2 separate regions of the Homo sapiens genome follow, and region 1 is linked to region 2. Evidence: fine-mapped expression QTL. A gene starts in region 2. The other region holds a variant in brackets. All regions are shown on one strand. Distances are between the middles of the regions. Region 1 overlaps TCFL5 (transcription factor like 5). Region 2 holds the start of SLC17A9 (solute carrier family 17 member 9).

What was found. PIP is the estimated chance that this variant, and not a neighbour inherited with it, causes the effect.
Region 1: its variant is fine-mapped to the expression of SLC17A9 in whole blood (TOPMed, PIP 0.99).

Annotation. Positions count from the first base shown.
Region 1 is chr20:62,841,530-62,856,708 of GRCh38, forward strand. TCFL5 (transcription factor like 5) reads right to left here. Exons shown (of 6, transcript NM_006602.4): 5 at 12,487-12,628; 6 at 1-568. The coding sequence ends at 446. It also overlaps the pseudogene DPH3P1. Among named protein-coding and RNA genes, the nearest start is that of TCFL5, 13 kb to the right of the region's middle. RefSeq lists an enhancer at 6,008-6,302. The variant A/G (reference allele first, on the strand shown) is at 5,057.
Region 2 is chr20:62,948,763-62,961,846 of GRCh38, forward strand. SLC17A9 (solute carrier family 17 member 9) reads left to right here and starts at 3,947. Exons shown (of 13, transcript NM_022082.4): 1 at 3,947-4,127; 2 at 8,003-8,200; 3 at 8,679-8,818; 4 at 11,742-11,841. The coding sequence starts at 4,069. RefSeq lists an enhancer at 3,357-4,186 and silencers at 3,738-4,057, 4,068-4,167.

The DNA of each region.
Region 1 (15,179 bases), 110 kb before region 2:
AATTTCCAAACTGTTTTTAGTTAACAATTTAACTTGTTCCAATTGCTAAAGGGGCATATTTAAAAGGTAAATAAGTAAAAAGCCGTGTACTTTTTAAGATTAAAGAAAGTACAAAGGATGTCAATTTTTTAAGTTATCATGTTAAGAAAACATGATGGAATCAGAGCATTGAGAAAATGCTTACTAATTATTACTAATTAATTATTACTAATTATTAAGATGGCTTCATCCCCAAATGGTCTAAGAGGACATTCATGGATAAGCATTTGCGTCTAGATAAATATTTTTACAAAATGTGCTCTCAAAGTCCCTACTGGAGTCCCGTCAGCTTGAGTCACGCCCTTTTCGAGTCAGACTAGCCGAGCAGAGCTCCAGGGTTGCAGAAGGCGTGCACAGGTCACGAAGGAATGGCTGTTCACCCCCCGAGGATTCCTGTTCAGTCCGATCACTTGATCTCCATCGAGGGGCTGCTCTGTAAACTCCCCTGTGCAGGACAGGTCACCAAGGAGTCCGGTCTGGTCAGCTTTAGCCTTCGGCCAGTTTTACCGCAAAATACGCTCTCAAATTCCTGCAGTGAAGAAGTGACGGTTAACATACTGAATTAACTGACATGAAAACTGCTGTCTTCCAAAGTGCAAAAGGTTCAAATTAAGAGCTAAGTAAATGACTTTAGAATACGCTGTTTTAAGGTGTCATTCACAAACTTGTGTCTTACCTCACAAGGGGATTTATATAATAAACAGATTTTAACTTTTTTTTTTTCAAATAGCAGTTACACTGTACATGTACTTTTGTTTTTCCAATACTCAGAATGTCTGGCCACACTGTATTGATTTTATTGTGGTAAAATATACATGACATGAACGTTTCAACCGCTAATGGGCCCTAGCTAATAAACCTGTAAACCCAGCGTGTGAGAGAAGGTAGAGTGTATATATTAAAACGTTTCAGGCCGGGCGTGGCGGCTCACGCCTATAATCCCAGCACTTTGGGAGGCCGAGGTGGGTGGATCACCTGACGTCAGGAGTTCAGGACCAGCCTGATTAACATGGTGAAACCCCATCTCTACTAAAAATACAAAAATTAGCTGGGCGTGGTGGCAAGCATCTTGTGACCCCAGCTACTTGGGAGGCTGAGGCAGGACAATCTCTTGAGCCTGGGAGGTGGAGGTTGCAGTGAGCCGAGATCATGCCATTGCACTCCAGTCTGGGCAACAAGAGTGAAACTCCGTCTCAAAAAAATAAATTTTTAAAAAGTTTCAACAATTAACAAGTCAGGGGCATCTACCCCCACCCCAGGGCGACTGCCTTGCCCTCTGCACTGCCACACACTCAGGGTTCCAAGGCCAGCAAGGTGGAGGTGCTGCTCGCTGAGATGGCTCTGTCCTTGGGGAGACCCTGCCAGCAGGGTGGGGGTGGGCTGAGCTTGCTCCTGTCACACCACCTGTCTTTTACAAAAGGCCTCAATTATAATGGTGGGGTCAGTCTCAACCTCCCGAAGGAGACTGAGAGGAAGAGAGGGGCACAGGCGACGGCCCGATGACAGGCGCCAACCACCACGGGCAGAATGTGGAAACGTCTACGGGACAAATCATTCCCTTTTCAACAAATGAACGGTGAGGAAGAAAGGAAGGGGGAACTATTACGGGTTAAGATATATTTAAAAACTATCAACCAAATGTGATGTTTGGATCCTGATTCAAATGAGCTGACCGTAGAGACACCTGTGGGCTCACGGGAGATTCTGCTCAGATTCGGGAAGGAGACTCAGGTGGGTAATAAGGAGTGAAGGCTTTCAGGAAGGAGACTGATAATGCGGTTGTGTTTTTAAACAGGCCTTTTCTTTCGGAAGATATATTTATGAATGAAATGATGTCTGGAATTGTTTTAAAATAATTCAGCGGGGGTGGGAGGGCGAGGGGATAGGTGAAACAAGCTGATGCCTGAAACTGAGTTAGAGGGACCTGGGAGTTCACTTTCTATTTCTGTGCAGATTTGAAAATTTCCATAAGTTGGTTTTAAAACATAGCATTCTACACGATTAAATCCAGGTTTATACAGTTTTTATTGTGGTATTAAAATATAGCATAAAATTTGCCTTTTAAGCATGTGTAAGTGTACAGTGGAGCAGCGTGAAGTCCACTCACAGTGCTGTGCAGCCGCCACCACCTTTTCATCACCCTAAACAGAAACTCCGTACCCATTAAACACTAACTCCACACCGCTCCGGCCCCCAGCCCCTGGCACGTACCAGTCCACTTTCTGTCTCTCTGAATCTGACGGCTCTAGGTGCCTTGTTTACGGAATCCCGCAGGGTGTGCCCTGTTGTGACTGGCTTATTTCACTCAGCATAATGACCTCGGGCCATCCATGCTGTAGCCTGTGTCAGAATTTCATTCCTTTTCATGGCTGAGTAAGATTCTGTTGTGTGCTTGTAACACATTTGTTTACTCATTCCTCTGCTGGAGCACACTTGAGTCATTTCCACCTTTTGGCCACTGTGAAAGGTGCTGCCATGAATATTCATAGAAAAGCATCCATTTGGGTCCCTGTTTCACCTCTTTGGGGTTTATGCTTCTCTGGTGATTCTATGTTGAACCTTCTGAGGAGCTGTCATACTGTCTTCCACAGTGGCTGCACCATTTCACACCCCCAGCGGCAAAGCACAGGGATTCTGATGTCTCCACATCCTTGCCAACACTTGCTATTTTGCTTTTGTTTTTGTTTTTGAATAGCCATCCTAGTATGTGTAAAAGTAGTATCTCATTGGGTCTTGATTCGTATTTCCCTAATGACTAACGGCTTGGCGCATCTTTCATGGGCTTATTGGCCATCTGTGTATCTTCTCTGGAGAAATGTCTATTCAAGTTCTTTGCCCATTTTTCAGTTGTGCTGTCTTTTTTTTGGACAGGGTCTTGCTCTCTCAGGCTGGAATGCAGTGGCACATCCACGGCTCACTGCAGGCTCAGCCTCCCGAGTAGCTGGGACTACAGGTGCACACCATCACGCCTGGCTTTCAACATTTTTTTTCTGTTTTTTTTTGTTTGTTTTTTGTTTTTTTTTTTTTGAGACCGAGTCTCACTCTGTCACCCAGGCTGGAGTGCAACAGCGTGATCTCAGCTCACTGCAACCTCCACCTCCCTGCAACCTCTGCCTCCTGGGGTTCAAGCAATTTTCCTGCCTCAGCCTCCTGAATAGCTGGGATTACAGGCACCTGCCACCACACCCGGCTAATTTTTGTTTTTTTAGTAGAGACAGGGTTTCACCATGTTGGCCAGGCTGGTCTCAAACTCCTGACCTCAGGTGATCCACCCACCTCGGCCTCCCAGAGTGCTGGGATTACAGGCGGGAGCCACGGTTCCCAGTCTGTGTAGTCTTTTTGTTGCTGAGTTGTAGTAACTTTCTACTTAATTCAAGTCCAGGAGGACACAAGCGCCATGCTGCCATGGATTTAACTTCTGAACCACCTGGAGTGACTGGAACATTCCACCCATCCACTTTTAAGCAACTTTCCAACCAAGCAAGCTGCCATTTCCAACTACTGTGTGCACTCAGAATCTACACCTGCATATAAATATACTCATTTTCTTCCCAATTTTTTTTTTTTTTGGATATGGAGTTTCACTCTTGTCGCCCAGACTGGGGTGCAATGGCACGATCTCAGCTCACTGCAACCTTTGCCTCCTGGGTTCAACTGATTCTCCCACCTCAGCCTCCTGAGTAGCTGGGATTACAGGCATGTACCACCACGCCCGGCTAATTTTTGTATTTTTAGTAGAGACGGGGGTCACACCGTATTGGCCAGGCTGGTCTCGAACTCCTGACCTCAGGTAATCTGCCCACCTCAGCTTCCCAAAGTGCTGGGATTACAGGCGTGAGCTACGACGCCCAGCTTCTTCCCAAATTTTAAAAGGTTTTAGGATGCAATTTAAAATGACCCCACATTTTGATAATTTCCTATATTCTGACACCTAAAGCCTACATATAAAAAACACTTGCCTATTTGGCAAGATAGAATTCACCTTTCAGGACAATTAAATGAAAGTCAGAGCCTGGGCCGGCTCCGGAGAAGTTAGACCCTCGGAGCTGGTCTCGGACTGCTGGGGCGTCACCCCTTCAGCAACCCCCGCTGACCATGGCAGTATTTCATGACGAGGTGGAAATCGAGGACTTCCAATATGACGAGGACTCGGAGACATATTTCTGTCCCTGCCCATGCGGAGATAACTTCTCCATCACCAAGGAAGAGCTGGAGAATGGGGAAGGTGTGGCAATGTGTCCAGGCTGCTCTCTCATTATAAAAGTGATTTATGACAAAGATCAGTTTGCGTGTGGAGAAACAGTGCCAGTGCCTTCAGTCAACAAAGAATGAGTTAAATGCTAAGGAAGCCTTCAGGAATCCGAACCCTGAACAGCTGGAAATGAGCCCAGATAGAAACTTCAAATGCAAAGCTCCTGGCTTCGTGGAGACACAGCCATTTGTGATTTGCTGTTCTGTAGGCGTGTTGTGGATTCTTTCCATCAACTGCTGATTTCATCTTCAGGAAGCAAGTCCATAACATGACGTATCTGGAGTTTGTGCTTAGAACCTTAAATTGGAAGCATTCTTAATTATCCATCTAAATTTAAAAGACGATAATTTAAAAAAAAAGAAGGAAGGAAGAAAATAATCATCCTCAGACATAACTAGGCGCTCGCAAGATCTTCTGAACTATTTTCACACAGTGATGAGGCTAGTCCCGGCGTCTGCCTTCACTATGAACAGTTGGGCAGAGGCAGGGTTGAGTTGTGGTTCCATCTGGACCCTTGCAGGGCCCGCCCACGACCCGTCTCCTGGGAGCTGGGGCAGCTGTGAAAGAGAGGAGCAGATCCCCTTAGTCCTCCTCAGCTGAGCCCAGGCCAAAGACGTGGTACTGATGTCATCGCACTCTCAATCTGCACCTCAATCCAAATGCATCTATTTGCAACAGAACATATGTGAAATCGTTGAGTTTTAAAGGAATTTTTATAACATCAAAACATTGAGATGACAACGTCCCAAAGCAGATACTCATGTT[A/G]GATTTGTGAACATGAGAAGAATAACAACAAGACGGGTGCGGTGGTGAGGGGCGCCTACGGTCCTAGCTACTCGGGAGGCTGAGGCAGGAGGAGCACCTGAGCCCAAGAGGACGAGGCTGCACTAAGCTGTGGTTGCACCGCACTCCAGCCTGGGTGACAGAATGAGGGCCCCTCGCTGGGAAAAAAAAAAAAAGAGAGAAAGAAAAAGAAAAATAATAATACCAACAATAAAAAAAATTTTCTTAGTAAGAAAAAAGAAATAGCTCTAACTATGAGTCAGGAAAATATACCAGGAAGTTATTAAGAGGAAGAAAGCGGCCGGGTGCAGTGGCTCACACCTGTAATCGCAGCACTTTGGGAGGCCGAGGTGGGTGGATCACCTGAGGTCGGGAGTTCACGACCAGCCTCACCAACATGGAGAAACCCCATCTCTAATAAAAATACAAAATTTGCCGGGGTGGTGGCACATGCCTGTAATCCCAGCTACTCAGGAGGCTGAGGCAGGAGAATTGCTTGAACCCAGGAGGCAGACGCTGTAGTGAGCCAAGATCGCGCCATTACACGGCAGCCTGGGCAACGAGTGAAACTTCATCTCAAAAAAAAAAAAAAAAAATTACAAGCTATTTAAAACTGAGAAACAATGAAAGCATTGTGTCCTAACCTGTGAAATGTTTCAAAAGCACACCAGGACAAATTTACTATAATGCATTGATTAGAAAACAACATAGACAAAATAAACTTTCAACCCAAGATACCAGAAAAAAATAAAACTTCAAGAAGGAAATAATAGAAATAAGGTTTTGGGATAATAAAGATAAGAGCAAATTATGATGGAAAAAGCACTACCACTGACCCCACATAAAAAACCAACAAAGTGAATGACTGAGCCCCAGAAAGACTCCAGCACGGCCCAGGCCAGAGGGGTACAGCAGACCAAGGAGCTCAGGTGGCCAGAGGTAAGGAGGCATAAACTCATTAGGACAAAAAGAATGGCTTTTCTTTTTCAAGATGCTTTATTTTTAAAACAGGTCACAACACAGCGTTCGGCTCATTCTGCCACGAACAAGCTACAAACGCTTGCTCTGCAGCCGAGAGGCCCTCCAGTGGCCATGTTCAAAAACAGAATGAAAATCCGTATGTAGGCCAGGCGCGGTGGCTCACGTTGGTAATCCCAGCACTGTGGGAGGCCGAGGCGGGCGGATCACCTGAGGTCAGGAGTTCGAGACCAGCCTGGCCAATATGGCAAAACTCCATCTCTACTAAAAATACAAAAATTAGCTGGGCGTGGTGGCGTGACCAAACGGCATGGGAGGCCATGATCACAGGCTGCTGGGAATGGATCCAAGAGAGGATGAAGTGGCTCAGGAGGTACAGACAAGCGCCGGGCAGCCGGGCAGCCAAGGAGAGCAGAGAAATGGGCGGTTGCCAGTACAGGACACGAGGTCCAGGGAGTTCTCACAGAAGGATCACGGGAGAAGTCACAGCGTGTCCGCAGGAAAGGAGGAGAGAAGGGACAGGCCAGTCCGAGTCTGCAGCAGGGCCTGACAACAGACAGCACGTGAGGGACAGCGACACCGGGGCCTGATGCAGATGGCAGGGAGATGCGAAGCGGGACTCAACCACCTGCTGGTGTGAAGAAGGGAGGGACAGACACCACAAGGGAGGCCCCAGGAGTGGCTGGCACCTTCAGGGCCCCCAGCGTGCAGGGGCATCTCACAACTAAACACAACCAGCGCCCCAGACGCCATCCCGACTGGGGAAAAAGTTGTAGTGGGCACTATTGAGACAGCAGGCAAAATGTGAATAACAGTCTTGCACCAATGTTAAATGTCCTGATTTTCATCGTTGTGGATATTAAAAAGTCAACACGGGGGCCGGGCACAGTGGCTCAAGCCTGTAATGCCAGCACTTTCAGAGGCCGAGGCGGGAGGATCACCTGAGGTAAGATCGAGACCAGCCTGGCCAACATGGCGAAACACTGTCTCTACTAAAAATACAAAAATTAGCCGGGCGTGGTGGGATGCGTTTGTAATCCCAGCTACTCGGGAGGCTGAGGCAGGAGAATCGCTTGAATCCAGGAGGCGGAGGTTGCAGTCAGCCGGGATCACGCCATTGCACTCCAGACTGGGTGACAAGAGCGAGACTCCGTCTCAAAAAAAGTAAACACTGGGCCGGGTGTGGTGGCTCAGGCCTGTAATCCCAGCACTTTGGGAGGCTGAGACAGGCGGATCACAAGGTCAGGAGTTCAAAATCAGCCTGGCCAACATGGTGAAACCCTGTCTCTATTAAATACAAAAATTAGCTGGGTGTGGTGGCTCAATGGTAATCCCAGCACTTTGGGAGGCTGAGGTAGGCAGGATCACTTGAGGTCAAGAGTTTGAGACCAGCCTGGCCAACATGGTGAAACCTGGTCTCTACTAAAAATACAAAAATTAGCCGGGCATGGTGGGCCATGCCTGTAGTCCTAGCTACTCAAGAGGCTGAGGCAGAATTGCCTGAACCTGGGAGGCAGAGGTTGCAGTGAGCTAAGATGACACCACTACACTTCAGCCTGGGCAACAGAGCGAGACGCCGTCTCAAAAAAAAAACACGGAAGTATTTAAGTATAAAGAAGCATGGTGTCTGCAGCTTACTATCAAATGGATCCCAAAGATACCTGGAGAGAAACTGGGACCGGCAGGGAGAATGGAGCAAACCCGGACAGGCCTACAAAGAGCTCTTTGTACTGTTCTTGCAATTTTTCTGTAAGTTTGAAATTACACCAAAATTTAAAATTACCAACAGTAAATAGAGCCATCTAAACCCAGAATGTGGGGCATTCTCTAGACAACCGGCCTGATCTCTTCAAAGCCTCAATGCCATAGTTAATAACTGTGGGGGGGATTCTTGTAGCTCAAAGAGCTTGAAAACTGTCATCAAATGCAGTGCATAATCCATGGCTGGGTGCTGGACTGTGGAAAAAAACAGCTATGAAAGTCATTTTTAGAACATTTTGGCTGGGTGTGGTGGTTCATGCCTGTAATCCCAGCACTTTGGGAGGCCAGCCTGGGCAACATAGCAAGACCCTATTGCTACAAAAATTAAAAAACTAGTCAGGCATGGTGGCTCATGCTTGTAATCCCAGCACTTTGGAAGGCTGAGGCAGGAGGATCACTTGAGCCCAGAAGTATGAGACCAGCCTGTGAAACATGGCAAAACCCCATCCCTACAAAAATAAAATTAGCTGGTCATGATGGCACACACCTGAAGTCCTAGCTACTTAGGAGGCTGAGGCAAGAGGATTGCTTGAGCCCAGGAGGCAGAGGCTGCAGTGAGCCATAATCATGTTACTGCACTCCAGCCTGGGAGACAGCAAGACCCTGTCTCAAAAAAATAAAACAAAACAAAATAAACATTAAAATAAAAAAATTAGGCAGGTATAGTGGCAATAAAAGAACATTTTGGGCAAATCTGAATAGTCTGTGCATTAGAGGATATGAAAAAGACTTATTATCTTGGGGAGGCATGATCATGGCACTGGGATTCTGTGGAAGGCCTGTCTTGGAGATTTATGTAGAAATATTTAGAGATGAAGGTTCGTGTCTATAATTGTCTTTGAAATTGTGCGTGTGTACAAAGTAAATACGGTAAATGTTCATTGCTGAGACTGAAGCATGGGTGTACAGGTGTTCACTGTAATTCCTATGTTCACTAGAAAACGAACAGAAGTGAATCACTGATGGCTGACGCCGCCCTGCCCTCACCCCATACTTATCTATCCCCTGCCTCCCGATGTCCCCACCTGACGCCCCCAGAATGCCGAGATCCTGCTTCTCTGAGTCTTCCCTCTCAGTAAACAGCCCCATCCACCCAGCCACCGAGGCCAAACCCTGACGCCTTTTTCCCATCACAACCCCCAACTGGTACCGCCACAAACACAAGAAGCCTTGTGCCTTTCCTCCTCCCCAGCGCCGCCCCCTGGCAGCCATCGCCCGGCAAGCCACATCTTCCAGCTACTGCAGACTCCTGGTTTCCACTCTCACCCCAGCCCAGCTCCTACTCCCTAGCATCCAGTGTCCCCCAGCAGCAGGGTGATATGGGTCATGTCACTCACTGCCCAAAGACTGCCGAGGCCCCCAACCCTCAGGACTAGCGGTCCACCAGGCCCCAGCCTGCCCCGGTGCCCTGCCCAGCAACACTGGCTGGCAGGCAGGCACTCCTCAGACTCTGCAGCCGGCAGGTCCTGGCTGCCAGCTCCCTGTCATCATTGGGCCTTGGTTGGGCGCCTCCCTCGACCACCCAACATCACCCAATCCAAAGCAGCCCCCGAGTCCGGCTGGCTCGCAGCAGCACCTTCCACCCGCAAGGCCCTGCTCCCACTGTCTTCACGTTTACTCGTCCCCTGCCTCCCTCCATGCCAGACATGCCTCTATCTTGCGCAGGGTACCCCAGCACCTTCAGCAGTGCCTGGTCACACTGGAAAAGACCTGCTGAGTGAAATGTGTACCAAAATAATGTAGAGAAATCACTTAAAACTCTCATGTATTACGTCTTCAAGGACAAAAATATGCATCCAAGTAAAAGGGGGCAGTCACTAAAGAAACAATTAAGAACCCATGTGTTTCGGCTTTTTATGTTCTAATTCCCCGAAAAAATTGTGAACTGACTTGACCTCAGCCTGTTTCTTGGTGGGTCTAATAATGTGACCCAGAAGTAATCAGATTCAATGTAATTACATTTAAGAAATATTCAGCAAACATAATGTATGTAAAGTATCATATCCATAAACATTTGGTCTACTTAATCTTTGACTATACATACAATTAACATTTTTTAATTTCAAAAATTATAAATGCCTTCGTCTTGAGTAAATCAGATCAATAATGATTTACTAATAGATACACAAAGCCAAAACATTAAAGCATTTTTTAAAACACAAAAGCTTTATTTTATCAAAACAAATCAACAGTCTACCTCTAACAATAATCTTCAAGAGTAACTGCATTGTAAATAACCATAAACGATCCGATCAGAATACATTCAACATAGCATCGCTATAGAATGCAATTAAATGTATAATGTAAATAAACAACTTAAATTATGCAACTCGCAAGATGTAAATGTCATGTGGACACAGAAAAGGGACAGAGACAAGACAAACTATTGCCTGGCGCTGAAGAGACGAGCCCTCACTCAACACAGCCCAGCTGCGGGGACCTCTCTCTAGCCCCACCATGACGTAGACACAGGAGCCCTTCTTTTGAGATGGAGTCTCGCTCTGTCACCCAGGCTGCAGTGCAGTGGTGCTATCTTGGCTCATTGCAACCTCCGCCTCCCGGGTTCAACAATTCTCCTGCTTCAACCTCCTGAGTAGCTGGGACTACAGGCGCCACCACGCCTGGCTAATTTTTGTATTTTTAATAGAGACGGGGGTCTCATCATGTTGGCCAAGCTGGTCTCGAACTCCTGGCCTCAAATGATCCACCCGCCTCGGCCTCCCAAGTGCTGGGATCACAGGCATGAGTCACTGCGCCAGGCCTGGGAGCCCTTCTTGGAAGAGGTCCTTGTTTGTTGCAGCAACCTTAGTTTGTTCTCTAGTCAGACTCCTGCCTGGGTCAACAGCAGCAATTCCCCAACAGCTTGGACCAGGTACAAAGTCAGGACCCTGTGGATCTATTTCACTAAGGTCTGCTCACTCCTAGAGGGCCAAAGAGCCACTGACCCTGGCCACTGCAACGCTGAGGCCGGGACCTGGAACTCGGGTCCCCCAAAGGCAGGGCCCAGGACCCTGGAACTCGGGTCCCCTGAAGGCAGGGCCCAGAACCCTGGAACTGGGGTCCCCCCAAGGCAGGGCCCAGAACCAGCCCTGTGACTGACACCTTCTTCCTTTTAGGCCACTGAGGGGCTGACTGAACTCCTGCATTCAAATCACACGTCTAGTTCCAGCCAACCACGATGGCTTGCTGCAGGCCACTGCCACGACCACACAGACAGGATCACGGCAGGCTGGCTGTCCTGAGGGACTGCATATGCTGGCGCTAACACGCCGGCTCCTCCCTAGTCACCCAGTCCACAGAAGTATATTCACCCGGTCCACAGAAGTATATTCACCCGGTCCACAGAAGTACAGTCACCCGGTCCACAGAAGTATATTCACCTGGTTGACAGAAGCATAGTCACCTGGTCCGCAGAAGTATATTCACCCATTCCACAGAAGCACGGTCACCCGGTCCGCAGAAGTATATTCACCGAGTCCACAAAGGTATAGTCAACCAGTCCACAAAAGTATGTTCACCCAGTCCATGGAAGTATAGTCACCCAGTCTGCAGAAGTACATTCACCCAGTCAGCAGAAGTATATTCACCCAGTCCGCAGAAGTATAGTCACCTAGTCCGCAGAAGCATGGTCACCCGGTCGGCTGAAGTACATTCACCCAGTCCGCAGAAGTATAGTCACCCGGTCCACAGAAGCATAGTCACCCGGTCCACAGAAGTACAGTCACCCGGTCCGCAGAAGCACAGTCACCGGTCCACAGAAGCATAGTCACCCGGTCCACAGAAGTACAGTCACCCGGTCCACAGTATAGTCACCCAGTCCACAAAAGTATAGTCACCCAGTCCACAGAAGTATAGTCACCCAGTCCACAGAAGTATATGCACCCAGTCCACAGAAGTATATGCACCCAGTCCACAGAAGTATATTTCTTATTAACCTGCTGGGCATATTTGAAGTCCAGATCAGACTATTTGACACTTATCTGCATTTTTGTTTCTCTTTCTTTTTTGGGGTGGGTGGGGGTGGGGCAGGGTCTTGCCCTGTTGCCCAGGCTGGAGTGCAGTGGTATGATCTCAGCTCACTGCAGCCTCGACCTCCCTGGCTCAATTGATCCTCCCTCCCAGCCCCCGCCCCGAGCAGCTGGGACTACAGGCATACGCCACCACACCAGGTTAATTTTTGTATTTTTTAGTAGAGATGGGGTCTTGCCATGTTGCCCAGGCTGGTCTCAAACTCCTGGGCTCAAGAGATCCTCCCACTTCAGCCTCCCAAAGTGCTGGGATTACAGACGTGAACCACTGTGGCTGGCCGGTTTTTGTTTTTCTATTCTTGCTTTTATCCCTTTCACAAGTTTTTCTGAGGGCAAATATCATGTCCTACACACCCGTCAGCCCCAGTGCAATATACCGTACACAGCAGGTGCCCAATTTGCTATCTGACAATTGCCTCTTCACAGTTATTTACACACTGAGTGTAACACATGTAGGCTGTGACTATTACTTTAATAAATGACAAGTTATATCATTAAAGAGCAGAGCTTTGCTCATACTGGACTTAGTATTTGATGTTAGATTCCAGGAAACAAAGGATAGTTTGAGTTATCCTTAGGAAAAAGGAGGGACATTGTTAAGTAAAATTTGTAAAATTCTGAAAATCTACCTGGCCTACCACTAACCTTTTTAAGAGAATCTCCATGTCTTTCCTGGATGTATTTCAGGAATGCTGTGGTCCACTGCAGAGTTGTGGCCTTGTCAGTCTCGGCATTGCAGAACGGCACTAAGAGATTCAACTCATCACAGCAAATGCGGATTCTGCGCCTATAGTCAAAACCCAAAGTCATCACCGAGAGAGACCGGAGCAAAACAAACATGTAAAAGGAAGCGTCTCCTGTAGTACTTGAGGGAACCAGAGCTCGTGCATCCTGGCCACTGAGTGCCACGGAAGCGCCTGTCACCACAGGAAGCCCCACGGCTTTGCCACGGCCTTGTCTACAGAGGCAGCCACTGCCTTCCAGAGGCCAGAGCATCCTCGGGTGCCCTTGGCGGCCCCATGACCCACAAGCTCCCTGGAGCTTTCCCTCTTTACTTCTCACGGGCCAGGTTCAAGTCTCTAGATTAGGGATGGCTCCAAAGCCCCTGAAACTGGAAGCAACATTTTGTGTCTGACACCTTCTTCCATTTGGACCACTGAGGGGTCCAAATTGGGCAGATAACTCTGTCATTCAAGACTGATATTACTTGCCCTTCACGGGCTAAATACCCTACCAGGAACTCGTGCACAGCTTTCTCCAAGGGGCCCTGATTCAGAAAGGATCACGGCCCAACACTCTGTTAATATTCTGAAACTTGGTCTTTGTAGAGATAAACAATTGGAGTCTTGTTATTAGACTATTTTTTAAACTTTTACATATTACATTCAGTAACATGCAAAGTCCTAAACAAGCAGATACTGAGCAACTTATTCAATATGGCCCTTGTTACTCACCTTCACACCCGTCTATTTAGAACTTTAATTAGAGACTTTGCCAGTAAAACAGCAGCTGGCATTTACTAGGTGCTTTTGGACTTCTAGACATTGAGCGAAACACTCTTTACACATCAGCTCACTGAACTCTAACCACAAGTCTACGCAGTAGAGCTAGAAGTCCAACTTTCAAACTGTCAACGTACGGTGTAAGGCTTTCCACATAGCAGGTACTCAATAAATGTCTATTAAATAAATGTCGGAGCAAAATGCCCTTCATAATTCACAGTAGGGTGAGGAAGGCCCTCAGTTAGTCCATGTGTATAAAAGTATCATAAAAAGATATTAGCTAGCTTTTTAATTTTCTTTCTTTGGGGGATGGGTCTCACTTTGTGGCCCAGGCTGGAGTGCAGTGGCATGATCACAGCTGACTACAGCGCTGACCTCCCAGGCTCAAGTGATCCTCCCACACCTCAGCCTCCCAAGTAGCTGGGGCGACAGGTGTGCAACACCACCACTACTAGTATTGTTGGTTTTTCTTTAGAGACGGGGACTTGCTATGTTGCCCAGGCTGGTTTCAAACTCCTGGGCTCAAGCAATCCTCCCACCTCGGCCCACAGTCATGAGCCACTGCACCCTGCCCCAGCAAGTTTGAATAGATCCCTTTAAAAGAAATTGCCATGCCAGGCGCAGTGGCTCAAGCCTGTAATCCCAGTACTTTGGGAGGCCGAGGCACGTGGATCACCTGAGGTGAGGAGTTCGAGACCAGCCTGACCAACATGGAGAAACCCCTCCTGTACTAAAAATACAAAATTAGCTGGGCGTGGTGACGCATGCCTGTAATCCCAGCTACTCAGGAGGCTGAGGCAGGAGAATCGCTTGAACCTGGGAGGCGAAGGTTGCGTTGAACCGAGATCGTGCCATTGCACTCCAGCCTGGGCAACAAGAGTAAATCTCCATCTCACCAAATAAAAAAATAAATAAATAAATAAATTGCCTTAGCTCAACATTCAACCTTGGAGCTTCAAACCTGAGTATTTGTCTCACTCACTGTTATTTATTTCCTGAACTTAAAGCAGAAACTGGTACACAGTACCAGTACTCGATACATTATGTAGTTAATTAATTATAGATTAGGGAAATATTCTATGAAAACCCAATTATAGGCCGGGTGTGGTGGCTCATGCCTGTAATCCCAGCACTTTAGGAGGCCGAGGCAGGCGGATCACAAGGTCAGGAGTTCGAGACCAACCTGGCCAATATGGTGAAACCTCATCTCTACTAAAAGGTACAAGAATTAGCTGGGCGTAGTGGCGGGTACCTGTAATCCCAGCTACTGGGGAGGCTGAGGCAGAAGACTCGCTTGAACCTGGGAGGCGGAGGTTGCAGTGAGCCGAGATCATGCCACTGCACTATTCCAGCCTGGGTGACAAAGCAAGACTCCGTCTCAAAAAAAAAAAAAAAAAAGAAAAAGAAAAGAAAACCCAATTATAATAGAAAAAAATTAACCACTCTTAATTCTACAAAGAAGGATACCACAAATAAAATCTACAGACAAAACCACTTAAATAACAATTTTAACCTCTTCCTTCCCAGCAATCTTAAAAGAACCAGGCAATAGCCAGGAGCGGTGGCTCACACCTGTAATCCCAGCACTTTGGGAGGCCGAGGCGGGCAGATCACGAGGTCAGGAGATCAAGACCATCCTGGCTAACATGCTGAAACCCCGTCTCTACTAAAAAATACAAAAAAATTAGCCAGGTGTGGTGGCAGGCGCCTGTAGTCCCAGCTACTCAGGAGGCTGAGGCAGGAGAACGGCATGAACCCGGGAGGCGGAGCTTCCAGTGAGCAGAGATCGCGCCACTGCACTCCAGCCTGGGCGACAGAGCAAGACTCCGTCTCAAA
Region 2 (13,084 bases):
GCATGATTTTAAACTGATTTTAATAGCCTAAGTAATTACTCTTTTTTTTTTTTTTTTTTTGCTTAATGAAATTTTCCAAACATATTAAAAACAGAGGGAATACGCCAGCACATCCCAGTATCCACCAGTCAGCCTGACACCCACCACCACCTGCCAGAGCCCCAGGCAGGAGATAACTACAGGTGTCTGATTCTGGGTGGCTACCATGCTTTCAGGGCCATGAGCGTCTTCATGAGTGGAAGGCAGTTGTAGGGTTCTTGGAAAGGACTCAGACTGACCCCTTCAAGGGCCTGAGGTGAAATTCAGAAACTGCCCATGCAGAGAAGCTGAGCAGCGGGCATCATGGAGCGAGGCGTTGAGAGCTTGCATGTTTGTTGGGTATCAGAGAACAGGGAAGGCCTCTCCTCACCTGCTGCTCCTCCCTATGTGGCAGTGGCATGTCACAGTGTTCTTGATGTTCACACACCTGTGCCAGTCCATTAGCCTCACGGGTCAGAAGGCAGCACGGTAGTTCTTAGTGGAGGTGGGCATCACCAGGAATGCTTCAGTGTGAGCTCCCACACTACAGTCTGGAGGCTCACACCATCCTTGCACACATGGCCTTCCTGTCTTAGATATTCTGCCTTATTTTGGAATGCCATCTTTGCTTGTGGTTTTTCACTTCTGTTAAAGTAGAACATGGGGTTTGAATGGGCCTTTGGTGTAACTAGCTATGGCAAGAATCTTTTAAGAGATGTGCTCTTTGGAGATACAATGTCCTGAGCTTGTTTGCCTTTTCCAGAAGCCACAAAATGGCTTTGAAGATAAACAGGCCCATGCTACAGAGCCACCGGCACAAGGCACCTGGTGTGCAGGAGCTGAGGTGCAGCCTGTGGTTAATTGATAATAATCATGTCCCCACATCTGCACAGTGGGGGCTGTTTCTCTCATTTCACACCCCAGTATCCACCAGTCAGCCTGGTGCATGTGTGCGGGGAATATTTAAAGGGAATGTGACGTTCTGATTTGTCTGTAACATTTCAGTGTCACCTAGTTCAAGGCCAGGTTTACGGGTCCAAATTGTCCATAGTACAGAAGACCATTTATCAGGTGAAGCCCGTAAAGCCATAGGCACAGCTATAACCAAAAGAATTCATGAAAGGAGTAACAACTGAAGGTGAGTGGGTTTCCTCATGTTTGTAAATGCAGGTCACGTTGCAGGCTCTTCCGCCAGCTGTCCGTCCATGCAAGGCAGTTGGTCACCCCGCAGGCTCACTTCGGAGATGAAGAGTGCTGGGTGCAGCAGCGCCTCCTGTCCTTGGGTCTCTGTGTATTTGAGGTGGAATTGATGAGCTTGGGAACCAGGGAGAAGCGGTGGAGCTGCTGTTGCCTTGAGCTGCCCGTGTCAGGCAAGGTCTCCGCCTGGCTGTGACTTCTGCTTCCTGGAGACACATCTGTAGGCGTTCCTCACACAAACAAGGTTTTCTCCCTCTTGTGGATCACGGTGTGTGACTGACAGCTTTGGTAATTTTCCCAGCTGGCTTTGAAAGTGAAGCAGGCTGACCCGTCACCAAGAATTCTCTGCCATGGAGGGTCATGGAAGAACGGGAAGAGGTGCTGGCGGTCACAGCAGCCCAGGGTTCGTCTGTGCTCGTTTATAGATTTGTGTGCCCATCCAGTCCTCACTGGGCCCTCCCAGTTTTAGAAATGTTGAACACTAGTGCTTGTAAGATTCGAACAATGAGTTTACCAGCTCTGAGAAAAATGAACTGCTCCAGAACCTTCAAGAATGTTTCTCTGTATCACGCCCACATCACACCGAATCCATTTGTCGTCATTGCAGAGTTCATCTTTCTGGTTTTGAGCACCATCTCACACAGTTCTTTGTCTTTTTCCAGTCTGCTGTTGACTGGGTTAGCTCAGCCCGAAAGGTGCCCCCACCTTTGAGGCAGTTCCCGCACGTGATGTCCAGTACCGCGGTCTTCCCTCTTGCTGCTGCCTGTCAGTCATGGCAGAGGAAAGTGTCATCTGTCAGTCTCCTTTTCATGGACTCCTCATCTTGAGAATTGTAGTTGGGCTGGAAGGTTGCAGGGCTAAGTGGGGTGCAGGGAGGAGCCCCAGGCCCAGGGCTGGCTTGTCTTGGTTTACAAGAAGCTGTGCGGGGTCTCCTGGGGCGTCTGTGGGGGGTGTGGATGCAGAGGCTGAGCAACGGGCGCCATACGTAGTGAGGTGTGGATTTGCTTTAGGAAAATCTCTAGCATCGTCTCCCTATAGCAGCACTTGAAATAAACAAGAAGTTAGGTGGGCCAGGCCCAACAAGAGGGAGGCACGCAGCCTTCCAGAAGCAGAGGCCAGTGGGTGCTGGCTGTGACTGCCCTGTCCGCAAGGTCACCCTGTGTCCTTGAAAACCCAGGTGTTGACTGTCTATTGTCCCTACATAATTTTTCACCTTAGGCCTCAAAGATGCTTGGGTGCGGGGCAGCTCTCAGAATCCACCAGAAGCGTGGAGAGCCTCCATCTGGCCACTACCAGCACCCAGCTTTATAATGTCCCTGTGAGATGGCCCCTTCACCCACCCAGCCATCCCTGCATGGCCCGTTTCTTCAGCTCATCCAGCCTTCACTCAGGTGTCCAGGGGTGCCTCCTCAGCCCAACCTATTTGAAGTAACACCCCTTCCCTACCCCTTTCACTACTTTGATTTTTGTCTACCTGCCCCAGAACATCAGCTCCAGGAGGAAGGGGACTTTGGGTAACCAGATGGCAAATGTCTGCTGCAGCATGATCACAGATCTCGGTAGGAAATCACCATCACAGAGTGAATGGAAGCGAATCACCTCAAAGAGGGTGCTGTTGACAGCGATACGTTTAGCAACAGTTTCCAAACTTCCTGGCTATGGGCTAGGGCTGTTTGGGGCAATAAACCTCTCTCTGCCACCATCTTTTCACCTACCCTACGTCAGGATGGATGAAAGTATGACCTTGCTTTTCAGGGTGCCCGTGTCTTTCTGTTCAGAGGGCCCTGGGAGCAGGCCCTGCAGTGCAGTGGGTTGGGCTGTTGGAGACCTGAGGGCTAGGGGGAGGGAGGGGGTAAATGTGGGTCTGTTCTAAGTGCAAGGCCCTGCCTTAGACGTGTCTCCCTCGGCCCCTGGGTGGTGGCTGCTGCGTGGAGGATGGACTGAGGTGGGCCCTAGTGGAGGTGGGGGCAACGCCTGAGGAGCAGGCCCTGCCGCCTCCTGGGGAAAGGCTGCATGGTTGAGGCCTTCCCCTGCTGGCTTCATCCTTGGCATGGCAGCAGGAGCACACAGAGTGGGGGCCCCACCCCGTCACCCCTGCCCCCGAGCCCAGAACCTGGCCTGTGATGGGTCCTCAGGACACCTTTTGTCCAGGAACCCAGGGGCCAATGACAACCTTCACAGGCATCTGCTGAGAAGACATGGGCCAGCGCTGGATTTGTCCAGCTCTCCCAGGCTTGGTCCAAGGGCTCAGGAGTGGACCCATCCCTGCCCCGAAAGATCCATTTTAAAAATCAGTGACCCTGTACTTTTACTCTCTTTGCACTTGGTTAAGACTTTATCCCTGATTTTATTTGATCGGTAAGGCAGGGACTGCCATCATTCCCCATTTTATAGACAGAGGACAGACGGCCCCATGGCTCCGTGTCGTGTCCAAGGGATGGGCTGGCACCTCTTGGACCAGGCTTACCACCAGGGCCCTTCTCTGAAGCCCCAGTCTGACCGGCCTGCTGCTGGGAATCCCCCTCTGCCCCCACACTAACCTCTGCTGGGGCTGAGCCAGGGCGCGTCGGACAGTCAGGGCGACCCAGCCAGGGCGACCGTTGGCCCCGCTCCTATGGGGCAGCAGGGACCGACGTCAGCAGGGTGGGGCGGGCACCCGAGTGGTATGCCCCGCCCTGCCCCGCCTGCCCGCCCTGGTGGCCGTCTGGGGGCGACAAGTCCTGAGAGAACCAGACGGAAGCGCGCTGGGACTGACACGTGGACTTGGGCGGTGCTGCCCGGGTGGGTCAGCCTGGGCTGGGAGGCAGCCCCGGGACACAGCTGTGCCCACGCCGTCTGAGCACCCCAAGCCCGATGCAGCCACCCCCAGACGAGGCCCGCAGGGACATGGCCGGGGACACCCAGTGGTCCAGGTGTGGCGGGGGTGAGGGGAGGGGGGGTGGGAGCGGTGGAGATGGGGCCGTGGGGAGGGAGCTGAGATACTGCCACGTGGGACGATGCTAGGTGGGGAGGGCTGAGCTGGGCGGGCTCCTCTGGCTGTGGGGCCCCCTGTGTTCCTTGTGGGAGGTGGAAGGAAGTGAGTGCCCTGTCCTTCCTCCCTGCCATGAGATTCCAGGACCGGACCTGGCAAGTGCCCTATCCCAGCCAGTGTTCCTGGGGCTCTTCCAGGCAGGGCTATGTTCCCCAGGCCAGGGGCATTGTCCTGGACAGTCAGGAGGCATACCCCTCGCCAGGTGGAACCACCCTGTGTATGCATGACCCTGACAAGCAGGCGCCAGGACAGTCAGGAGGCCAGGTAGGGGGCACGGGCTGGAGCCTGCAGCTGGACGGGGTTGGGGGGGGTCCTGCCACCACGTGCCAGCTGTGTGCTGAGGACGAGCTCCCCGCTGGCTTCAGCTCTCGGAGCATTTGGTGGTGGGGAGAAGCAGGGCCTGGGCAGGTCGCCTGGCCACCAGCACTGCTGCCTGTAGGAGGCTCCCTGGGCAGGTGACGCCTCAGAAACCGGGCGAGATGGTGACCGCGGGCCATTGGTCAGCTGGGGAGGGCCTCTGCCAGGGAGCTCCTGAGAGCAGCCCCCACACTGCTGAACCCCTTGGCTCTGGGTCTTGGGCTGAGGCCTTAAGTGGCTGGACCCTGGGCCTAGACTCAGGCCCTGTGGGTTCCAGAGCAGTCTCCTGCCTGCACTGAGTCCCCAGGGTACCTACCCTGACCATGGCAAGGTAATGGCACCTTCTGGCCCCACCAGTTCCCAGCTGTATGAGGGCTGAGGACCCTAGAAGTGCTGGGAAGAGTTGTAGGAAGGCCCAAAGGGGCAGTGCCACCATCGGATGTTGGCACCCAGATGAAGGGAGCGCTGGCTGCATGGGAAAAGCTGGCAGCCCAGATCACAGCCCTGTCAGGCGCCAATTAGAGGGGAGGGCTGCCCTCAGCGGGCCCTGCCCCTTGCTCTCTTCCTCTTCCCCCACCCACGTTCATCCAGGCCTGCCGGGCAGGGCCAGCTCCCCAGGGATTCAGGGCCTCCTCACTGGCGGCTGGTTTGAGTGGCTCCGCCTTCACTACGTCCCTCCCAGGCTCGATGTTTAAAAAGGAGCCCTTGCCGCAGCCTTCACTACGTCCCTCCCAGGCTCGATGTTTAAAAAGGAGCCCTTGCCGCAGCCTTCACTACGTCCCTCCCAGGCTCGATGTTTAAAAAGGAGCCCTTGCCACAGCTCTTCAACTTCCTTTGCAGGCCCTTATTGGGTAGCGCCAAGGATTCTGGAGGGGCCTGTGGGTCAAGGCTGCCACACGCACGCCTTTTCCTAGCCCGCCCTCCTGCAGCCACATCACAAAGGCTGGGCCAGGCGAGAACAGAGCTGGAGGGCGGCACCCACACTCTCCGGTTTGCTGCTCGCCTGGCCCGGCCCCGCACAGTTCCCTTTTCTGAATGGAGGGGCCATGTGACCACCTGTTTGCTCAGCCGTGGATGCTGCTTCTGCACAGGGGCCGTTTGCTCTAGAAAGTTCACAGGAAGCAGGCTGCTGGGCTCAGGGAGTGCAGAGTGGTGGGAGGAAGCTGTTCAAGCTGCCCAAAGCTTTCCGGTTCTTGGCACACCCCCCGTCCCCCGCGCCCCCAGCAGGATGGAGGATTCCCAGCCTGGGGTCCTAGTCAGGCCTCAGGTAGCCGACTGTCTGGGCCATCCTCTCCAGCCTGACATCCTTGTCTCCCCGGCAGCTGTGGAGGGTGCCCCTGTGCCCACCTGGCCAGCACCACCTGCCCAGCTCAGAGAAGGGGCTGTGGCTGCCGCCTGCCACGTAGGGCAGATTGCTTGCCTGGAAGGGCTGTTCTTGACTTCCTCCTTCCAAGGAGGCCCTGGAGTGGCTCTGTGTTCTCAGTCCTGTGCTGGCCTCAATGGGGGTGAGGATCAGTGCAACTGAGCTTTCTGCTGTTTCTAGCTAGCGGCCAGGCAGTGCGGGGCAGGTGCCACCTGGACACAGGTCCCCCACCTCCCCCCCTTTCTTTTTCAAGACAGAGTCTCTCTCTGTTGCCCAGGCTAGAGTGCAGTGGTGCAATCTCGGCTCACTGCAACCTCGACCTCCTGGGCTCAAGCGATCCTCCTACTTCAGCCTCCCAGCTGGGACCACAGGTGCACACCACCACACTCAGCTAATTGTTGTTTTTTTTTCTTTTTTTTTTTGAGATGGAGTCTCGCTAGGTGGAGTCTCACTCTGTCGCCCAGGCTGGAGTTCAGTAGTTTGATCTCGGTTCACTGCAACCTCTGCCTCCCAGGTTCAAGCGATTCTCCTGCCTCAGCCTCCCAAGTAGCTGGGATTACAGGCACCCGCCACTACGCCTGGCTAATTTTTACATTTTTAGTAGAGATGGGGTTTCACCATGTGGGCGAGGCTGGTCTCGAACTCCTGACCTTGTGATCCTCCCGCCTCAGCCTCCCCAAGTGCTGGGATTACAGGCGTGAGCCACCATGCCCGGCCCTGGCTAATTTTTAAAGTTTTTTTTTGTTTTGTTTTGTTTTTTTTTGTAGAGCTGAGGATGTCCCCATGTTTCCCAGGCTGCTCTTGAACTCTTGGGCTCAAGTGATCTGCCCACCTCGGCCTCCTAAAGTGCTAGGATTACAGGCATAAGCCACCGTACCTGGCTCTAAAGCTCCTTTTTAAAGGCACCTTTGGACTGTGTGGCTTTTAGTGGAAAGTTAAGGGTGGGGGCCCCCATGTCCCTTCTGCAAGCCTCGTGTGTTAAGTCAATGAAAACTGTTTACAGAGAGCCTGGGGCTAGGTAAACAACAGGGCTGCGGGTATCAACCACGCCAGGACAGGGCGTGGAGGCCAGGGCTGTACTGGGTTAGGCAGCCTGGCAGTGAGGACTGTGTCCTTCTGTGGTAACCCAGGGAGCAGCCAGATATGGGGCAAGCCAGTTGTCCCCAGAGTGGAACCTGGCTGCAAATGACGCTGGCGAAACCACACTCACTGCCAAGTTCCAGGACAGACAGCACTTCCTCCCACACAACTTTCTCCAAACTCCAGGGGTTAATGGTTGGCCCTGCCGTGGGGAGGGGCTGGAGCCAGGATAGCCTCTGGCAGAGCAGGAGGTGTCAGAGGACGCAGCTCTGGGCTGCTGGAGTGACCTGTTCTTGCCTCTGAGATCTCGCCCGGCCTCCCTCACCAGGATTGGGAGTGTGAGCTGGCCGGCCTGGCTCTGTGACCTCGGGCATGGTCAGTGCCCGACTTGGTGGTCTTTTCTCCCGTGGGAAGCGTCTAGGCGCAGACTTGCAGAGAGTGCCGAGAAGGCCGTATACCTGCCCCTCTGTCCACAGCACACCGTCATCCACTCACTCATCTGGGGCAGGTTCTTGGGAGCACACACCCGGGGTGCAGCCAGCTCCCCGCAGGGGCAGACAGGACCTTTTGGGAAGGGTGGGGTGAGACTCTCCAGTGTCCGACTCCTCTGCCACCCATCTCCTGGTCACCCTCTCCCCTGTTCTCTTTGAGGGGAACAAGCAGGGCCCGGCCCAGGCACCTTTTGTGGGGATGAGTCGTTGCTGTGACCTGCCCGAGTGCTGGCCACTCAGTTGCTCCCAGGAGCCACTGTGCCTCATTTCTGGCTGCCTGTGTTCTCCCAGGGGTCAGCAGATAGGTGCGATTAGGTGTTTGAATGCTTGCCAAGTTGCCCTCCATCAAAGCTGTCCCCATTCACAGTCCATGTCCCCCAGCCCTGAGGGAGGTCTCTGAGTGATGAACTCGAAGCAGCAGGGCCGTGGGGCCTCCCCAGGGCCTGACCATCTCCTGTCCCACAGGCCCGAGTGCCAGGCATGGACGGGGACGCTGCTGCTGGGCACATGCCTTCTGTACTGCGCCCGCTCCAGCATGCCCATCTGCACCGTCTCCATGAGCCAGGACTTCGGCTGGAACAAGAAGGAGGCCGGCATCGTGCTCAGCAGCTTCTTCTGGGGCTACTGCCTGACACAGGTTGTGGGCGGCCACCTCGGGGATCGGTAACTGCCCATCTTCCCCATCTCCTGGCTGGTGGGGGCCGCCCCACTGGGGCCTCCAGGGGCGAGTGGGCTGGCTGTGCTGCTGCACGCAGAGGATGCGACTCCTGGGGAAGGAGCTTGGTGGACACAGAGGATGCGACTCCTGGGGAAGGAGCTTCGTGGACACAGAGGATGCGACTCCTGGGGAAGGAGCTTGGTGGATAAATCTGGGCAGAAGACCCCCCCAGAGGAAGATGGGAGCTGGGAGGGGAGAGGCCAGGCTTGGCAAGGCCCCAGGGCCCTGCAGGCAGAGGAGGCAGGCCGCTCCCCTGGAGTACCTGGTCTCCTCACGAGGCAGCTCTGGGGTCATGAGCAGGCCCTGTAGAGGCAGACAGGCCAGGCCCAGCTCTGAGCACCCACTCAAGGGCTGCCCTGAGTCAGGGTGGTGCCCCTTGGTCCTGCACAGCCACATCCTCACCTCCCTCTGTCTTCCCTCCAGGATTGGGGGTGAGAAGGTCATCCTGCTGTCAGCCTCTGCCTGGGGCTCCATCACGGCCGTCACCCCACTGCTCGCCCACCTGAGCAGTGCCCACCTGGCCTTCATGACCTTCTCACGCATCCTCATGGGCTTGCTCCAAGGTAAGGGGAGCTCAGGCGGCTCCCTCACGCTCTCTGGCACCAGGTGGGGAGACAAGGGGGGTGTGCACGGATGTGTGTGCAGGTGCATGCGTGCATGCAGGTGGTGTACAAGTGTGTGTGTATGGGCATGCCCGCGTGCATGCGTGCACCTGTGTGTGTGTGCGTGTGTAAGTGTGTGTATGGCATGCCCGCGTGCATGCGTGCACCTGTGTGTGTGTGCGTGTGCAAGTGTGTGTGTATGGGCATGCCCGCGTGCATGCGTGCACCTGTGCGTGTGCGTGTGCAAGTGTGTGTATGGGCATGCCCGCGTGCATGCGTGCACCTGTGTGTGTGTGCGTGTGCAAGTGCATATGTCCCTGCAGACACGTGTATGCAAGCAATGTGCATGTATGTTTGTGCTTGTGCGTGTGCGTACGTATGTGTGCATGCACATGTGTGAGCATGCACTTGTGCGTGCAGGTGGTATGCATGCGTGTGCATGCCTGTATGCATGTGTATGTGTGTGTGCGTTCCTGTATCCATGTGTATGTGCGTATGCGTGCCCATATGCGTGTGTACGTGCGTGAGTGTGCCCGTATGAGGGTGTACGTGTGGCCATGTGTGTGCCTTCTGTAGGTGCACACTCTGCAGTGATACACAGGATCACAGGGGGCACCTGTGTAGTGAACTTGCCCCTGCCCCTGAATTTTGTCACCAAACGCCTTAGTTCAGTGGTGGATTCCAGCTGCAAGGGACCTGCTGTGGGACTCTGGGTTTTGTGCATTTTGGTCACACGTATGCTGATGATGCCTCCGATACTAGGGCCTTGGAGCGCCTTAACTGTCAGGAGAACAAGGTGGGTGGGGGGGCCAAGGGGGCTTTGAGGGGCCCCTACTTGGCTGGGGTCCCCTGGAGAAACAGCCAGGCCTCCAGCCTGCAGGGGCCTGCTGGCCCCAACCCAGCCTGCCTGGCCACCCCACCCATCAGCAGTTCCCTGCCTGGGCCACTCCTCCCCCAGTGTCCTGGGCCATCCAGACCCCCCACTCAGGACTCCCCCTACCTTCCTGAGCCGGCATCAGGTTCAGAGCGCTGGCCATGGCTCCCCTAGAACCTCTGCCCTCCCTCTCCTCCAAGTCCAGAGACTTTGGGGAGTTCACTCCCAGGCCTCGTTCTCCTCCCTCTCCACACCCTCACTCCCCAAGGTTATGGCCTGGAAGGTGCTGCCTGGGACTGTCTCCATAACAGAGGAAGGGGGTCTGCCCAGGAGAGAGGCCACTCTCATGGTCACGGGGTGTCACATGAGAACAAGGGCCCAGTGCATGGCCCACCCTCAGAAGAGGGTGCAGCGAGTGCAACTGAGGACTTAGGATTGTGTGTTTACTGTGAGGCCCCATCCCAGAGCCAGCCCCTCCAGCATCACCGCCTCCCCAGGCACTGCCCAGGTCCCACTGCAGGAGCTGGAGGAGGAGGGGAGGAATGAACGAATCGGCAACCACCTGGAGGGGAGGACAGGCCTGGCGGGGGGTGGGGGCCCTCATCTTTGTTTACTGGAGGGTCTTCGGGGTGAGGGAGGAGGGTCCCAAGGCTGAAGCTGTGAGGAAAACAGTGGTGCTGCCTCGGACTGGGCTGACCAATGCCTCTAAGTGTCGCTGAGAAGACCCTCGGCCCTGGGGCAGGCGGCTGTCCTCGTGGGCAGCTCTGGGGACCCAGCAGGCAGCCAGACCCCGTAGGCTCGCTGCCGCTCCAGCTGCGCTTCCTCTGCGGGGCCCAGCTTGTTGTGCTACGATGACTTGGCACCTGAGGCACATTCTGTTTTCTAGAAACCTTCAAAGTCTGGCACGTCTCAATGTCAGATGTCATCCTGTGCCCATGAGCCTACTCTGGGGGTCTGGGGGGCAGCAATGGCGGCTGCGTGGTAACGGTGGGCACCACCTGCGGCTGGCTTTGCCGTGTTTGTGCACGCTGTCTTCGGGCAGAGCAGAGACGCCAGGTGTCCCAAGACCTGTGGCTCTTGCTGCGGGGCATCGGACTTCTGGAGGGAGCCCCAGGAGCTCCGCCAGGCGGCCCCCAGCCTCCCTCGAGGGAGCGAGGGAACGGGCCCTGCCTCTGAGCCGTGAGCCTATGAGTGAGCGCTCTGCGGTTAAAAGTTACAGGCGCTGGCCAGGCAGGCGCTTCCTGTGTGTGGCCGTCTGTTTGACGATGCCCCCCTGCAGGGTAGCATCAGCGCCCTGTAGACACGGCCCGTGGGTTTGGGGGACAAGCTCCTGTTGTCACCGTGGCTCCGCGGTGCCTCCCCTCGCAGAGTCCCTCCAGGTCAGGCTCAGAGCCCTCTGGATGTGGAGGAGCTGCATGGGGTGGTAAGGTGGTTTCCAAACTTCTAAAGCGGCTGAGAACACTTGGTCCAAAAGAAATCCTGGGAGGAAGCTCAGTTTATAAAACAGGGAAGGGCAGCTTTCTTGGGGGAAGTATGTGTCTGTGCACGCATGCGGCAGGTGTCTGTGCACGCAGGTGTGCATCTTCATGCGTATGCGTGTATCTGCATCAGTGTGAGCACAATGCAGCACTGCCAAGAAGTGTGCCGGTGAACACGTGCGTGTGCAGGCGCATGTGTGTGTGTTGGTGCGAGGACTCTAGAGCACAGCTGGAGGCCGGTGGTGAGAGTGTGCACATGTGCATGTGCGTGTTCGCGGGGTGGGAGGGCTAGCTTGGAAGCAGGGGTGTTTCCCTCAGCCGTGCGGGTGGCACGACCCTGAGCGAGCCTCACCCAAAAGGAGTCTGTTTCCTCAGTGGCACCAAAAGCCCTGCCCTGCTGGTCCCTCGGGTGGGGAGGTGAGCTAGAGGGACAGGTGGACGTCCTCTGGAATCACAGCCCAAACCTGAGCAGATAGGCCGGGAGGAGCCTCCCTGGATGGACCCTGAGAGACCCTCCCTCCACTTGTTGCAGGGGTTTACTTCCCTGCCCTGACCAGCCTGCTGTCGCAGAAGGTGCGGGAGAGTGAGCGAGCCTTCACCTACAGCATCGTGGGCGCCGGCTCCCAGTTTGGGTAAGTCCTGGCCTAAGACGGGGCCCAGGAGAGGCCACCAGGTGAGCCCCTTGCCGAGTGGCCCCTGGTCTGCGTGGGGGATGGGCCACATGGGCTTGCAGGGCCACCATGGTGAGGTGGGTCCCGCAGGCGCCTTTTGGGCTCTGTAGCCCGAGGCTGTGCTCTGCAGGTACCAGCCCCGGGCACCGCGCTTGCTTTGTGCATATTTCTGCCTTTCTGGAGTGGCTGGCAGGTGATGAGGCTGGGACTTGGGGACATGGGTTGGAGGAGTGGCCACATCATCTCATTTTCTTTCATCTGTGCTAACGATGCCAGATGCCGTCCCCACCATCCGCTGGCCCCCACCCTCGACAGGAGAGTCTGTGAGCGCAGGAGCGTCTGGGCCAGGGTGGGCCTATCAGCTGGCTGGAGGGCGGCTTGTCCTCAGGGTGGGCCTATCAGCTGGCTGGAGGGCGGCTTGTCCTCACGGTGGGCCTATCAGCTGGCTGGAGGGCGGCTTGTCCTCAGGGTGGGCCTATCAGCTGGCTGGAGGGCGGCTTGTCCTCAGGGTGGGCCTATCAGCTGGCTGGAGGGCGGCTTGTCCTCAGGGTGGGCCTATCAGCTGGCTGGAGGGCGGCTTGTCCTCAGGGTGGGCCTATCAGCTGGCTGGAGGGCGGCTTGTCCTCAGGGTGGGCCTATCAGCTGGCTGGAGGGCGGCTTGTCCTCAGGGTGGGCCTATCAGCTGGCTGGAGGGCGGCTTGTCCTCAGGGTGGGCCTATCAGCTGGCTGGAGGGCGGCTTGTCCTCATCCACGATGCGGCAACCCCGTGCCCCTCAGTCCTCCCTCCCTGCGCCCGCTCCTTGGGGAGCTCCAGACCCTCTAGCGATGCTGGCGGCCTGGATCGAGGCCAGGCCAGGGGTGGGAGGCCTTCCCGGTGGTTGTAGCAGGGTGGATTGGTGCAGGAGCTGACCGGGGCTTCCCAATCACTGGGCTCAGGCCCTCGTGTTACTGTTGCTGAGGTTCAGAGGGGCGGAGGCGGCCCCTGTAGGTGGGGCCGGGAGCAGGCCCAGGCAGGCCTAGAGTGACCAGATTCATCAAGTAAAAACAGACTGCCCAGAGGAATGTGAATTTCACATAAACCGGAGGGGATATACTTCTACTAAAGAATGAATCCTCACTTCTCCGAAACCCGGTTTCATTGAGTGTCTTGCGGTTTTTCTGCACCCAGGTGGGGAGCAGAGACAGGGTCAAGTGTGGGCTGGGC